Regions from separate parts of the Homo sapiens genome. Here region 1 is linked to region 2. The links come from fine-mapping of genetic effects on gene expression. A gene starts in region 2. The other region holds a variant in brackets. All regions are shown on one strand. Distances are between the middles of the regions. Region 1 overlaps ASB2 (ankyrin repeat and SOCS box containing 2). Region 2 holds the start of ASB2 (ankyrin repeat and SOCS box containing 2).

Region 1 (8,000 bases), 22 kb after region 2:
GTGGCCGTGACCCAAGGATCCTGGGAGGTGGAAGCCCAGGGCCTCATCAAGACGACAGGGCTGGAGACAGCTGAGGTGAGCCTGGCCCCAGGCTGCCTCCACCTGCCGGCTGTCTCTCCTTCTCAGGACCAGGCACTAATGCAAAGGACACTGAACCCAGCAGCTGTCAGGGCTGAGGAGGGGCCTTGGCTCTGGGATCTGTTGGACACTGAATCTCTCCACAGCTACAGAAACAGTGTGGACATCCCCAGTCTGGTCCTGGTCCCACTTCTCCATTTTGCAAATAAGGAAACTGAGGCACAGAGCGGGGATGGGGCTTGTCCAAAGTCACAGGGACAGTCAGTGTGGAGGTCGGAGAGCTGGAGAGAGGACGAAAAGGCAGGAAGAGGCCAGGCCTTCAGAGGACAGGGTGGCATCAGGAGCTGGGCGGACAGTGGTAGTCTGAACCTCTGCTCCACTCGCTGTCATGCTGAAGGTGACCCTGCACAGTTAAGTCCCCTCTCACAGCCTCCCTGTCCTCATCTGTAAAAGGCACCCCCATCTACGGTTGATGGATGTGGATAAATGAGGACACATGCAGGCGGTGTCCTGCCCACCCCAGTGCGGGTCAGTAGAAGGCCAGAAGCAGGGGATGGGAGAAGGCAGGTGGGAGGGCGTGACAGCGGCGAGGATGAGGAAGGCAGCCAGGCCTGCAGGCAGCCCTGAGAGCATGAAGCAGAGGGGTGAGCAGGTTCCCCTCCTCCTGCCACCCTTGCTCCTCTCTACCAGGCTCTGGCCTTGCTGGGGTGTACCCACAGAATCTGTAGGCTCTGGCCTAGCCAGAAAGAGTGTGGGTGCTTCTCAGGGTCATAATTACCCCATGCCCCACAGGGTGTGAGTCACTGGTAGCAGAGTCCTCCCCAATCCCCCCCAGAAGAGTGTGGTGAAAGGCCCGGGCCACTGGGGTGTCGAGAGTGCCAGGCCTGACCTACTGGGGGTGGTGTCAGTAGGGGCCATATACCCTGTTCTCACGACAACCCCAGGCCAACTCAGATTTGTGGAGCGGCCATCCCACCTCCTTCCGGCTCTTCCACCCTCACAGGAGCCTGGTGGGTCGGGAAAACTGAGGCCTAGAGAGGCAAAATGATGATAAAATGAAGAGTGAGTACATGTGGAACACCCTCTGTGCCTCACACTCCACTAAGCTCCTCACACCATTCACTTACTCAGGCCTCACCGGCCCTCGAGCACAGGCTGTTTTCATGCCACCTTGCAGGAGCGGGGACTAAGGCACAGAAAAGGTCAACCTGTCTCACGTCACACAGCCAAGGAGTGCCAGAGCCCAGATGTGAACCTGTGTCTGTCTGACTGCAGCCCTGGTTCCGACGCCCTTCCTCATGCATCCTATAATAACACTATAGAGGTTACTATAGTGTCTGCTCCTACCCCTGGGACAAGATCCCCTAATGAGCTGGCAGGTGGGCGTGGGGGGCACAGGTACAGCTTGGCTTCTCAGCTTTGCTCCCCTATCCTCTGCTTTGCCATGAATCTCTCATCCAGCCCCGCAGGGATCTGCCTGGCCAGCAGTGAGCCTGAGCCCCTTTCATCCTGGGACCTGCCGACCACGGCTCACATCCTCCTGGGTGAAGAATGTCACCTTGCTTCCTATCTGCCTCTTTCGTGGTTGGCTGGGGAGGGGGACCGGGGGGTGGGGTGAGGTTAACCTCATTGTTGTCTTATATGGTCATTTAAATCTCCCAGGGCTTCCTCCAAGGGCCAAAAATAATCCGGAGACACAGCAGCTGTGTCCAGCACACAGAGGACCCGGCCATCTGCTTTGGTTCAGAGCCCTGTGTCTGTCAGTCAGTCTCTCCCTGGCTCTCCCTCCATCCTCATTCCTGCCTGAAGCCATGACCCGCTTCTCCTATGCAGAGTACTTTTCCCTCTTTCACTCCTGCTCTGCACCCTCCAGGTCCACTGCACCTCCTGAGAGTTCGCCGGCCCGGGCCCCAATGGGCTTGTTCCAAGGGGTCATGCAGAAATACAGCAGCAGCTTGTTCAAGACCTCCCAGCTGGCGTAAGTGACTCCTGTCTGGCCCCAGGACCATCCAAGTTCACTCCGCTAACTGGGATGGCAGGGAGGGTGGGAAGCAGGCCCACAGCCCCCAGGAGGGCAGAGGGCACTATGGAGGCACCTGCCAGGCACGCTCCTTCTAGGGGTGCCCCCCTGGGGCCCCACTGCTCCTGCTGAGATGGGCTTGGTGGCCACAGACTTCAGTCCTCAAGGAACTTCCAGCCAGGCATGCTGGTGATCCCCCCCTCAGATGCCCCCAGCATGGGACCTGAGTGCTGGAGGAGCCCCATGGGGCTCTGAAACTGGGGACCCAGCACGAGGGAAATTGGGGAGATGGCCTTAGAACCCCAGAGGCCCAGGAGAGCTTGGAGTTGAACTTGATGAGTTGGCTGCACCCTTCTGTTTGTCCCAGTCTCACTTTCCCCCATGCCATCGCTGTGGGTACATCCAAAATGCCCACACCCACAGCCTTTGTTTTGTTTATTTGCCCTTATTTGTGAAGTGCCAGGTGCTAAAATCCAGAAATAATCTAAGCTGCAGGGGCTCTGTTTGCCTGGCACCAGGGGGCAGGGCTAATGCGCTCCTTAGAAAATAATTCTGCCTCCCTCCCCTCTCTGTACCCCTGGAATAGTGACCCCGGAAGCAGCCAAAAGCAAAAGAGGGACCCTATCACTGGAACTGCATTTCCTCACTCAGTTACGTTGTAGAGAAGGGAGGAGGCAATTGGCCAATATTTTCTTTCTCCTTCCCAGCCTTTTTCAAATCCTGTCGCCCTCCACTTCCTTGGTGTGGTGGGTGTGTGGAGTGGTTGACAATCTGGAAAAGGGAGACCCAGAGCTGGTCTCAGCTACTGCCACCTCCTGCATGACTGCCTGAGAGTCGCTGTCCCCTCTGAGTCTCCCTTCTCTGCAGGACACGGCTGGAGAGGGCAACGTGACCTCTAGGGTCCCGTCCAGCTTACTACTCTGATGGCCTGACACCCCCAGAACCCTCCCCCACTCATAGGGCGGGGACTTTGCCTGAGGTCATGGAGAAGCTGTGAATATGTGGGCTGAGGGCTCCAGGGTCCTTGCATCACAGCTGGAGAGACCCAAGCTGGGCGGCAGGTCCTGAAAGTGTTCTCACGACACTGCACCACGCCCTGCTCGCCAAGGCCACGAGAAAAGCCAGCCCTCCTCCCTTCCACTTCAGCTGGGGTCCCTTTGGAGACACTCCAGGAAAAGGGGGGCACATACCCCCACTGGGCTTTTCCTGATGCTGACAGGGGCTGCTCTGGCTGTTCCTAAGTGGAACTCGTCAAGGTGGCAGTGACGGTGCTGATGGGGACCTCAGGACTTATCTGATCAGTTTCCCATCGTCCTTGCTGGGTCTGTTGCTTCACCGGCATCTGTGCTCTGACAC[C/T]ATTAATAACCACAGAGTCTGAGAGTCAGGAGGAAGTGCTGCTCACGCTGGAGGAAGTGGCTGGGAGAGTGCAGGGGCTGGTGGCAGAGACCGCCCAGAGCCCATCCTAGCCCAACATGGCGTGGGTGTCCTGGGAATGAGGCCTGCCTCCAGCCTCACCTTCTCCATCTGGGAAATGGGACTATTGATGCAGAAGCCTCCCCAAAAGTGGATCTGAGAGGCATAGACATCGTGGTTCTCACGGACTCTCCAAGGATGAGGTAGGGAGCTCAGTGAATGAATGAAGGAAGGAAGGAAGCAATGAATGAACAAAGGGACTTTAACAAGCCAAGCAAGGAACGGCTTCACTTTAGCCCTCAAATCTTTTTGACATTCAGAAGTTTTAAACTGTGAAGGCTTCAAATTTATTAATCCTTCCAGTATATATTTTTTTTCTGCAGCTGGATGTACTGGGAGTAGGAATAAGCGACAGGGCAAGGAGAGGAGTTGGAAGACCCCAGAGATATGCTCAGGGTTAAGAGGGGGCCCCCGAGATGGGCGTGCCTGGTAAATGCTAGAGTGCTATACTCAGGGAAAGCATTTAATTATCACAAGTGCCTCACATGTGGGTGGTTAGCCACCCTCTAGGAGGCTGGCATTGTGTGCCTGAATCCTCTTGGTAGAATTGGTTTTGGTATAACATTCCCGGCAGCCATGGAAAGCCACAGAGATGGAGGGATCCCCCAGTCCTCTTGCAGCCACTGGGCTGCAGGGGGCTGAGTGCTCATCCTGGAACCAGCAGGGACGAGGACCGAGTGACTCCACTGCCAGCACTCCTGAGAGAGAGGCCCCCTGGCCTGGCCTTGGCCTGACCTTGAGGACTGACCCACTCCTTCCTCTCACAGGCCTGCGGACCCCTTGATAAAGGCCATCAAGGATGGCGATGAAGAGGCCTTGAAGACCATGATCAAGGAAGGGAAGAATCTCGCAGAGCCCAACAAGGAGGGCTGGCTGCCGCTGCACGAGGCCGCATACTATGGCCAGGTGGGCTGCCTGAAAGTCCTGCAGCGAGGTGAGGGCTGGGCTCTGACGGTGGCAAGAGGTGGGAAAGGGACTAGGGGAAGGGCTGCCGCTCCTGGGGCTTCATGTTCTTTGCCCACAATCATCTTGGGAGAAGGGCAGGCAAGGCTGTCACTTTCATTTGTCAGTTAGTCATGGAGTTACGAGAGGGGAAATGAGTTGTCCCCACCCCCTGCTGCCACCTCTCCAGGCCTCCAAGGACAGGAGAGCCTAATTCCTAGAAAAGGAATGAGGGAGGGCTGACTTTTAGAAGAACCACTGCCAACTTGTTCCAGAATGTCCCAGGGGCTGATTTGGTGTGAAAAATACTGCAGCTGTGCCTGTGCCCGGCCAAGGCTATCCCCCACCTGCTGTGGGACCGCGGGACAGCCGTGCCTCCTCTCTGAGCCCTGTCTTCCTACTGAGCCAGGTTCAGAAGGGCAACTCCTGCAGGCAGGTGTCACCTCTGCCCTGAAGCAGCACAGACCCCACACGGCCCCCGACACTCCAAGAAACCATGGCATGTAACAGTGGGTTTCCAGCAATGGCTGGTGTGAGTTCGAGGAAAGGACAGGAGTATTCGAAGAGGGAGGGGCTCCATTAGGGAAGGCTTCTCAGAGGACGTGGCATCTGAGCTTGGACGTGTACGACCAGGAAGCTAAAATGGCCCTGTGAAAGGGCCAGATGAATGCAGTCTGTAGTTGGTAAATTTCAGAGGATGTCATACATTGTTCTTGAAATTGGGAGGCAATCGGGAAAGCCTCTGTGTTGCGGGGCTGAGTATCTTTCTCCTACATGAATTTCCCGGTGGGCCCTCCCTAGCGTACCCAGGGACCATCGACCAGCGCACCCTGCAGGAGGAAACAGCCGTTTACTTGGCAACGTGCAGGGGCCACCTGGACTGTCTCCTGTCACTGCTCCAAGCAGGGGCAGAGCCGGACATCTCCAACAAATCCCGAGAGACACCGCTCTACAAAGGTGAGGTCCCCACCCCGGAGTGAGCTTTCCTGCGGAAGAATCCAGAAGCTGGGTGAGCAACAGGGAATGTTGCTCCCGTTAAGTGCATAACCCCCAACGTGGCCCTGCTCAAATGCACAATTTATGTAACTGAATCATTCATTCCTGCATGTATTTTACCAACATTTTCCAACTGCATCCCATGGGCCAGGATGCTGAGGGACACTGAGGGCTTGGAGCTGAAAAGCTATAGTCCAACCTGTGCACCCTCCCAGCCCTGTAGGCACCCACACACAGAGAGCAGGAAAGGGCTTGGCAGGAGGCATTGTGGGAGCATGGGGGAGGGGCACCCAGAGGAGGGGTGCCTGAGCTGAACCACAGAGGAGGAATCACCTGCTGGCCAAGCAGCGGGAACCGCACAGGCAAAGGCATGAAGGTATGCGAGAGCATGTACCTCTGGGACATTTGTTTAAGAAAAACAAGGCCTCCTGGCTTACTCAGTACATCATCCATGGACATTTGTTGGCTGCCCTAGCAGTACCCAGAGTCAAAGTCTAAATAATCACAATAGCTAGCATTGATTGAGTGTTTAGTATGTGCCAGGCACCGTTCTCTTATGGACCCCTCATGTCCATCTGCACATGAAGTAGGCACTGCTGGTATCCCCTTTCACATATGAGGACCTAAGGCACCAAGACATTAAATGGGTCGCCCAGGATCACACAGCTTGCAAGGGGTACCCCAGTGGTTTAAACTCAGGGAGGTGGATGTCACACTGCCCTCAACTACTACATTCTAAAGCATCCTGTCCATGCCTACATGCTGAAGCAATCAGCTGGGGTCTTACAAATGATCAGGCCTTTGTACTTGGAAAAATTACAGATATCCCTGATTTCCCATGTGTCTATCCAGTGCTTGGAACAGCTTGGGCAGCAGGAACTGAGTAGTAGGTCACTGGATCCGCTGCAGACCCACCATGGAAGTGTCTTCCCTGGAATCCGTGCCTGCCAGGGCGCCATGGCTATCACCTGGAACCTCAGCTGTCCAAAGGGAGTGCCCAGGAAGCTGGGCAGCCCACAGCCAGAGCTTGGCCCTGGTCTTGCAAGCACACCTACTATGTGCCAAGCACTATGCTCATGCCTTACACACAGTCTCACTCCCATAGCATCTGCTCAAGAAGGTTTTATTCTCTCCATTTTACAGATGAGAAAGTCAAGGCTTAGAGAGGTAGAAGGCTTGGCCTATGGTTCTATTTGAAACAGTACACAGGCAGCCCTCCTCCCCCTGCTGCCAGTCTCCCTGACCCATTCCTCACTCCTCCTCCCACTGACACGGACACAGAGAAGCTTCCAGGGCTGGTTAATTTGGAAAAGTGCCCAGGTGACTCCAATACCACCTGCAGCTCCTGGTGAGAACTCTGGGGCCAGAGCCAAGGGCACGTTTGGGGTCTAGAGAGAGATGAGGCTTATAAAGGAGGTTAGAGCAGGTCAAGAAAGACTTGAGGAGCTGTACTCACAACGTGCATTTTACCCTGAACTAAATTAGTAGCCTTTGCTGGAGCAGGGGGAAGTTCAGCAGGATTATGACACCGCTGACTCCTCATCTAGAAAGATTCTTCCAGCCTTGGTAATGTGGAGGACTGAAGCAGGTACCACTGGAAGGGGAAATGATAGGGACATCCTGGGACATCCCAGGGGACAGAGACCTTCAGCCTGACTACCAGGGTTTGAATTCCAGTTCTGCCACTTAGTATCTGTGTGACTTTGGGCAAGCCACTTACCCTCTCTGTGCCTCACCTTCCTTATCTGTGAAAGGGGATAACATCACTACATCCTTTAAGGGGATTTGGGAGGATTAAATTAGTTAATCCTGTAAAATGTGCTTAGAACAGAGAGCCTGGCACAGAACCAGTACTAGGCATATGAATCAGCAAGTATTCTTGCTAATGTTAGTATCAGTATTACTTTTAGTCGCCTATCCCAGGTTCAATGCAGGGATTGGAACTTAATACACATGCAGTGGAAAGCTGAATGAGTGGATGAGTGAATGGACAGGCGAATGAATGCAGTCTCTGCTGGCCAGTTCCTGCCAGGCCCTGCTGACCATCCCTGCTTCCCCCTGAGCACAGCCTGCGAGCGCAAGAACGCGGAGGCCGTGAAGATTCTGGTGCAGCACAATGCAGACACCAACCACCGCTGCAACCGCGGCTGGACCGCTCTGCACGAGTCTGTGTCTCGCAATGACCTGGAGGTCATGCAGATCCTGGTGAGCGGAGGAGCCAAGGTGGAATCCAAGAACGCCTACGGCATCACCCCCTTGTTCGTGGCCGCCCAGAGTGGACAGTTGGAGGCCTTGAGGTTCTTAGCCAAGTACGGTGAGTGGCTAAGGGTCCCTAGGTCATGGAGTCCCCAAAGGGCACACGGGAAGGATGTCAGAGGTCAGCTCTAAGGGAAGGCGAGTTAGGGGTCATCTTGTGCGCACACTGATGGAGTGAGAGTTTCCTCCTAGAGTGCTGTGTTGAGAAAGATGCTGAGGCTGTGTCCAGGCTCAG
Region 2 (8,000 bases):
GACTTGGCGTTGACTCACAGCTCAGCTCCCGGGGGCTCTTGGCTGGCTCTTCCTCCTCCACTCTCCTTCCCTCCTTCTGGAAGAGGTGTCACTGTCACAGAAACATGTGCTGGTCTTGGTTCCCCCTAGACCCGACTAGGTATAGGGCCCTGCAAATGGCCTCTCCAATACATACATGCACCCCTTTATTCCTGGGCATTCAGGCTGACATAAACAGAGAGGGATGTCTGGAAGGGAGAGACCTAAAGTGTGTGTGTGTCTTTGTAGCCACCGGCCAGGCTCGGGTTGGCAGGCAGAACCAAGGCCCTTCCCAATTCTGCCTCAGGGACTGTGGGCTTGAGTGTGGGCACACATGTCCAACAGTTATGGAATGGGCATCTCTTATGTGCCAGGCACTGCTATAGACACCGACACACAGCAGTGAACAGAAGGACAAAGTATTCTAGATGGAAGAAACAGGCAATGCACATATGGGAGATAAATATAGAATAGGTCAGCAGGGAGGATAATGCCAGGTGAGGGGGTAGAGTAAGGGAGGGCAGGTTCTAGTTAGGCTTGGGAGAGTGAAACCCACCTTGGTTCCAGGTGTGAGTCCTGGGGCTTTCCTGTGGTGGCCACATTCTTCTTCCCACTCCCTTGCAGGTTGATCAGTTGCATAGTTTCTGCCTCTGCATTTTTATTCCCCTTCTATTCCCTTTGTTTCCCCACAAAAACCCTCCCTGGAGGGCTGTTCCCAGGGTAGCTGGTGGGCCTTGTGCAAAGTTAGGGACCCCGGAAAGGCTCCAGAGATCACTGAGGCCAGGGCTGCTCAAATGCTCACCGTAATTTGTCATCAGGGGTGTGCAGATTAAAACTGCAACAAGATGCCACGGATGCCCATCAAAATAGATAATATGAAAAAAGATGGAGGCTGGGTGCGGTGGCTCGCGTCTGTAATCCCAGCACTTTGGGAGGCTGAAGCGGGCAGATCACCTGAGGTCAGGAGTTCGATACCAGCCTGGCCAACATGGTGAAACCCCATCTCTACTAAAAATACAAAAAAAATAGCTGGGCGTGGTGGTGGGCACCTGTAATCCTAGCTACTTGGGAGGCCGAGGCAAGAGAATCGCTTGAATCCAGAAGGTGGAGGTTGCAGTGAGTCGAGATCTCACCACTGCGCTTCAGCCTGGGCAACAGAGCAGGACTCCATCTCAAAAAAAAAAAGAAAAAAGATGGAATCTACCAATTGTTGGTAAGGATATAGAGTGACTGGAACTCTTATGCCTGGTTGATGGGAGTGCAAACTGACACAACTTTGGAAAGCCATGTGACAGTTTCACTCAAGTTGAAAGAAGACCTAAACTCTGACCCAGTGATCCCCATCCTAGGTGTATACCCAAGAGAAAGGAGTATGAATATTTACCAAAAGACATGTACTAGAATGTTCATAGCTACACTCTTCATCATCGCCCAAAACTGGGAACCACCCAGATGTCCATCAACAGTAGAATGAATAAATTGTGATATATTCATAGCATGGAATACTACACAGCAATTAAAATAACAATCTACAACTCCATGAAACAATATGGGCAGGTCTCGCAATGTGTTGTTAAATGAAACGAGACGCAATGATTTCATTCACATGAAGTTCAAAGGAACCTGTCCTGCTAGCAGTCAGGAGAGTGGTCACCCCTGGCAGGAGGTGGTGGGTGGTGGGAGCTCTTGAGGTGCTTGTAATATTCAGATGTTGGGTGTGTCCAGTCTGTGAAAATGTACTGGGCTGTACATATGTGAAAGTTGCACTTTTTTGTGGGTATACTGAACTTTAATAAAAAGTTTTTAAAAATCAGTCCTGTTTGGGCCTCGACACAGATTATTTAAATCAGAATCTCTGGGGTGGGGCAGGCATAGGTAAGTGTAATATGATTCTAATGAGCAGCTAGGGCCAGATCCCAGCACAGTTCTCTTTCCTCTGGGTCACACTGCCTGCCCTCCACAGGCTCGAGTCAGATGCTTGAACGCTGTCCCTGCCTTTGTCAGGAGAGTGTCTGTGCTTTAGGACATCAGCGTCTGATCCCATGGGGCATGGTTCCCACTGGCATGGCTTTCAATGTGTGAATTATTCTGCCCCCAAATTGCCAGGTGATCTCAGAGAAGGCACAGAACCTCTTGGGGCCTGAACTAGTAAATGAGGGCTCTGAACACCAGGATAGCCAAGAGTCCCTCCAGTTAGAGGGACCACAATTCCCCTGTAAGACAGAATCTCAGCCAAAAGGAGCTTCTGGTCTGATAAACCCAAGAACTGGGAAATGACTTGGGACTACATTCTTTTGTAAAGAGTGAGGTAAAAAAAAATTTAGTTTGAATCTGTTTTTCTTCTTTTAAATGGAAACAAAGACAAGTGGAAAGTCAGAAAAAAGTTCACGGGTAGCACACGAGAGCTGAGGAGCATGCAGCTGAGACCGCAGTGAATATTTGGTGAGTGTCTGGGTTGATTATTACTACATATCAAACTACCTCAATCCCCAGTGGCACGAAACAATCCTTTTATCATAGCTTGTGGTTTATGGGTCAGGAAGTTGTGGGTGGTTTGTCTCTGCTCCACGTGGCATTAGCTGTGGCAGCTGCAGGTGAAGGATCCACCTCCGAGAGGGTGTCTTCACCCCTCTGCCTGGTGCTAGATGCTCTGGGGGCCCTGGGTGTTGCTTGCTTGGACTTCCTCACAACATGGCAGCTACAAAGCATCTCATGACCTAGCCTTGGAAGTCTCAGGACATCATTTCCACTGCATTCTATTGTTAAGTCCATCACTAGGCCACCCCATATTCAAGGGGAGGGAAGGAATAGACACATCTTGGATGGAGTTTGGGGTGTGTATGTGTGTGTGTGTGTGTGCATGTGTGCATGCCCATGAGGCAGAGGGCAACCTAGGAGGGGCCTGGCCTGGCCACAGCCCACCTTCCAGGTCAGATTGGGAAGGGGCAGGTGGTGGGCAGGAAGTAGAGGAACCTGTGTTTTGCCTCCAGCAAGGAGCCCAGGAAAGCAGCCCGGCCTCGGGGAGCCGTCCCACAGAGACGTCTCTCGGGGAACATCCTACTGGGTAGCAGAGTCTCCAAAAAGTAAAAAGAATCTGACAGCCCCTTCTCTGCCCTTCTCCTACACTCCCTCCATAGCACATGGGTCTGGAAGGGGCTGAACTTGAGCTAACTTTGAGGGCCACCCAGCCACAGTGGCCTGGGAAGACTGACCCAGCTGGGGTGATGAGCAATTTGGCAGGTACCAGGGAAGCTGGGGGACTGCCTGGGGACCACTGGTGTCCTTCCCATCTTTAGCACCAGTCAGACCTCCAGAACCTTGACTCAACCCCGTGGCACCTTGTATACTGAGATGTATTTCCTTGTGGAATATTCGAAGTGCGTGTAAAGGCATCCTGAGGTTTCCTGAGTTTGAATCAGTGAGAAATCATGCTGTGGCCATCATAAATCCACATCCTCCAAGGGGAATGGGCCACTGAAACAAAAATGATTCTCCCCTTAGAGGAACAGACCAAGTCATGTTTCTGGACCCCTAACTCTGAGGCATGAGATGTGAACACACGGGTGGGAGAGTAGGTGCCTGGCCATGTCCTGTCACATCCCGGATGCTCAGTGCATGTGGCTGTGTATGTGTTGTCTTTGACATTTGACCTATTCCAGAAATGGGACGTTCTTCCCTAGACCAGGAGGAAGGGCTCTCTTCTGTTGTATATCTCTGCCCAGGGCTTGCCCGCATGCCTCTGTGTTTGTTTGTTGGCTCATTTGTACCCTGGCCCTTTGTATCCCCAGCCCCACCCCACAGTATCCAGCAGCCAGACACCTGCTATCCCCAAATGCTGCCACAAGCTCAGCACCAAACCTTGATTTCTCCAAAGCCCTTTTACGTCAACTCCTTCATCTCCTCTCTCCCCTTCTTCCCTTCTCTTTCACTCCATCCTCTTCCTTCCTGCTGTCTTGCCTTCCCTCCTTTGTTGCCTTTACTTCTCCTCTTCCCCTTTCTTCCTCCTCCCTTGCTCCTCACTCTTTGTCTCCCAACTATGCGTCTCCTCGTCCTCGTTCCCTGCCTCTGTCTCTGACCCACTGCATCTCTCTCCTGTCTGGCTCTCCCCTGGGTAGTTCCAGAAACATACCCATATATGGCCTCCATGTCAAGGATCACAAATGATGACATCACGTGAGGGCCAAAGCTCCGGGATCCTCTCTGAAGTGAGAGTCTGTATTCGATGCACCCGGAGGAACGGAAGGCAGGATTGCAGCTTCCTCAGTGCAACCTCCAAACAGGAAATCTGAGATGTATAACATCTTATAGTTTGGCTTGTCAACGTTGGTCATGCGGTGGCCCCAAAATAAACTCCCTGCTTCAAAGGACAGCGTTTCAGAACTGCCTGGCAGAGCAGCCAGAAGCTTGGGGCCAGGGCAGAAGGAAAACTCGGGGAGCATGTTCTGAATTAAGACACTTTCAAGAAAATCCTTTGTATTACCCCTGAATTGTACCCTTGTTTCAGAGCCTAACAGGTAATGCATGCTTTCAACTTTCTTATACAGATCTTGCAAAAGATTCTTTGGCTGGTGGGGATTTTCGGCTGCAGTACTTACTGGAAACCGCTTGTAGTCAAACTGTGATGTTGCTTTTCCCTCTCTCTCGTATTTTCTTGAGTTATACAGCACGCTGGTGACTTTCGTTTTGGATGCAATGAACAGAGACTCAGCAATTTGCATGTACTTACCCATTCTTCTGGAGGACTCTGGCTCAGAATATCACTCTGCTGTGCACTTCTAAAAATGGAAATGCAAAAGGACTTATCAATGATGCTATTGTTGGGTCTGTAGGTCTTGGGCGGTATCTGTGTCAGACAAGTGACTTTCAGAAATGCTTTCAGGCCAGGCGCACAGATAGAGGTTTTCATGAGTGGGAGTTAATTTAATGTAGCTGTTGCAGAGTGCCTAGGCATGCACGGTATTGTGGGAGACCATAGCAGCCAAGGTGCCATGTGCTCTGCTTTCAACTGTTTGGGGATTAGGAGAGGAAATGGAGGAATGTTATTTATGTGAGATCCAACAAAGCTGTGGAATGCAGGGATGCAAGAATACCATGCATGTGTGTGCACACGCATATGCATGACACATTTAAGGAGGCCATGGCCTTTGAAAGGATGGGTGGGATGCCTCAGGGTGGAAACAGAGACCTCCAGGTGGAGGAGCAGCTTGGGCAAAGGCAGGGAAGTCAAGGGACCTGGGGTGATGATGGAAAGTGAAATGTGGCTCTGGCAAAGGGTTCTGCATGTGAAAAATGGGGGTGAGGCTAGAAGGGGAGGCCAGAGGGAGAGGCACATCCTTCCAGGCCAAGCAAGAAGTTGGAACACTTTCTGAGAGTTTTTGAGCAGAGGACGGCATGCACATAGCCACATGCATTGAGCATCTGGGATATGAAGGGACACAGCCAGGCACCTACACTCCCACCCGTGTGTTCACATCTCAGGCCCCAGAGGTGGAGGCCCAGAAACATGACTTGGTTTCTGGTGCCTCTAGGTGGAGAATCATTTTCATTTCAGTGGCCCATTCCCCTTGGAGGATGTGAGATTTGGCTTCGGTGGCTCTTCGGGAAGCCAGGGGTATGCACTGGAATGAGGAGGCAAGGAGGCTGGTGACTCCTAGGGAGGGCAGGTAAATGAGGAAGGCCTGAAGCAGGGCAGAAGCTGAGCCCCTGCACAGGACAGGAATGCTCTTCTGAAGATAAGCTTGTTTCGTGAGGCGAGGGCTTGAGGGGGCTCAGAGGGACGCAGGCAGAGCCAGCTGGGGCCAGCACCCCCGCCACAGCCCTGACCTCTGCCTGGGCAGAAGCACCATGAGGCAGACAGTGGCAGATGCTCGAGGCACTTCCAAAACAGTTGGACGGGTCCTGACAGCTGGTGGCAGGCCCATGTGCTGCACAGCGTCCCCAAGAAGCTGGCAGCAGCTCCGCTGGGTGCCATGCTGGTTTGCATCATCTGTTCTTGCACAAACAGGCCGGGTCATGAGTGCCTTGTGGTGGCGGGGGTGGGGGACACTGTCTAACCCACGCACGGTGACCTCACAGTGAACAACAACACAGGCCATACCAGCAAGCCTTTGTTGAGCACTGGCCCAAGCTTGTGTGCAGATTTCTCTCACTGACTTCGGTCAAGGCTACCATGAGTTACAGGTGATCGTTACTCCCATTTTCAGGTCTGGAAACAGGTTATGAGAGCTTAAAAGTCTTGCTTAAGGCTGGACGGCTGCAAGTGTTGGAGTCAGGAATCTGACCTTTTGGTCTGCAAGGTCCACATTCAAAGCCACAGCGTCCTGTGGCCTCTCAAGGTACTGTGGCAGTGGTAAACAGGACCATCGTGCACCCAGGGGAAATGTCTCTGGCACACTCAAGGCATCATAAGGTGCCCGTATATTGTGGACAGGCTAGATCCAAAGAGCCTTCCCAAAGGAGGCACAAAAATATCTCTGGGCCTGCCCAGTGTCCTTCCATTTCTGCGCTGCAGAGGATCAGGCTGCCCACAGGAGCCAGCTGTCACAGGAGTGGCTTGTGTCTGTGGTTCTCTTTCCTTAGCACCATTGTTTGGAATAATTAACGCCCAGGAATATAAATGAAGTTATTAAGAGCTTTGTGGTTGGGAGGAATGTTTTTGGGGAGGTGGTGCTGAAATAAAGGTAAATTGAAATTCCTAAACTATCTGTTTTTTAAAAAGAATGGGACATAGAGGAGTAAAAAAGGAGAGAGGAAAGCAGAGAAAAGAGAAGAGAAAGATTTAAATGGAGGCGGGGTCAGGGGAACTCAGAGGAGAGAGGATAAAAAAGGAAAAAGAACCTCGCCGATTTGGGTGAGATCTAACTTAAAAGATTTCCAGCCAGCCCTGCAGGTGAGGAGGGGCTATGGAGGATTCCCCCTGCCCTGCCTGAGCCTTCCCGCTCTGCTGCCTGGAGTTAAAGCCTCCAGAACCCCCTGTGTCTTCTGCCACTAAGGAACCAAGGTGAGGGTCCGCCGTCTTTGTCTGCCCAAAGGACAGAACAGGGCTAGGCGGGCTGTGCTAGGGCAGGGGTGCTGGGGAGGCTCAGAGGTGGACTGACCAGCCCCGTCCACCCCTGTCACCCCCACCTTTGGTCACTGGCACAGATGGCAGATCCTGGCATTGGTAGTGCCTGGGCAGAATATGGGTCAGGGGCCTGGAATCCTGTGTCCTGAGCTGTGAGTGTCTGAGCCACACAGATGCGGGGAGGGGCCAGCCTCTGGCAGGGCCAGGAGGCAGCAGAAGGGCCCTTCACTCAGGAGGTGGAGACGAAGGTCACCCATGGGCCTGGAGACTCAATAGCTCAGGGGCCCAAAGAAGTAAACTGGAAGCTTGACTTTTGTGGGTGCTTTTCTTAGCTGGTGGTGTGGGCACTGCCGCAGGTAGTGGGCATGTCCTGTGCAGAATGGATGCTCATCATTGCAACAGGGCACTTTCCACATTCAAAAAACCTTCTACAGGGAGGTTTTTCCTGTGTTTTTCCTTCTTCCCTCTCTTCCTCTCACCATCATTCTTGCTCTCTTTTTGGAGTGGCATCCTCAATGTACATCAATAAGTAAATAAATTACCAAGACTTTTCGTTAGGGTCTTAGACTCTTCGGGAGAGATTCACCAAGATTTGGATCAGCAAGAGGCGCTCCATTTCAGATGCAGCCTCAGTCTCCTCCTCTATACAATGGGCACAGAGTGTCTGCTGGCGTGGGAGCAGAGCCAGCTTTGGACAGGTTCAAATCCCTGGTTGTCACCTCCTACAGGGTTATGTAGGGGCAGTCACACCCCTACTCCATACAAAGAGAAGAGCCCTGTCTTGTGGAGTCAGCTGGGGCCTGCAGCCCTGAGCACACCTCTTGAGTCACCTCCAGCAGCCCCAGCCCAGCCTTGGAAGCCCCAAGGCCCTGGCACCCGAAAGCCGGGAGCTTGAAATCAGCATCAAAAGGTCTGAGAT

What was found. PIP is the estimated chance that this variant, and not a neighbour inherited with it, causes the effect.
Region 1: its variant is the best candidate, but not a certain one, in a credible set for the expression of ASB2 in blood mononuclear cells (TOPMed, PIP 0.89).

The regions. Positions count from the first base shown.
Region 1 is chr14:93,950,822-93,958,821 of GRCh38, reverse strand. It overlaps ASB2 (ankyrin repeat and SOCS box containing 2), which reads left to right. Exons shown (of 10, transcript NM_001202429.2): 3 at 1,952-2,056; 4 at 4,339-4,505; 5 at 5,315-5,470; 6 at 7,578-7,823. Among named protein-coding and RNA genes, the nearest start is that of MIR4506, 6.5 kb to the right of the region's middle. RefSeq lists enhancers at 2,425-3,129, 3,130-3,836, 3,947-4,924. The variant C/T (reference allele first, on the strand shown) is at 3,455.
Region 2 is chr14:93,972,966-93,980,965 of GRCh38, reverse strand. ASB2 (ankyrin repeat and SOCS box containing 2) reads left to right here and starts at 4,396. Exons shown (of 10, transcript NM_001202429.2): 1 at 4,396-4,532. LOC107984663 (a long non-coding RNA gene) reads left to right here. Exons shown (of 4, transcript XR_001750861.2): 4 at 1-3,541. RefSeq lists an enhancer at 5,344-5,915.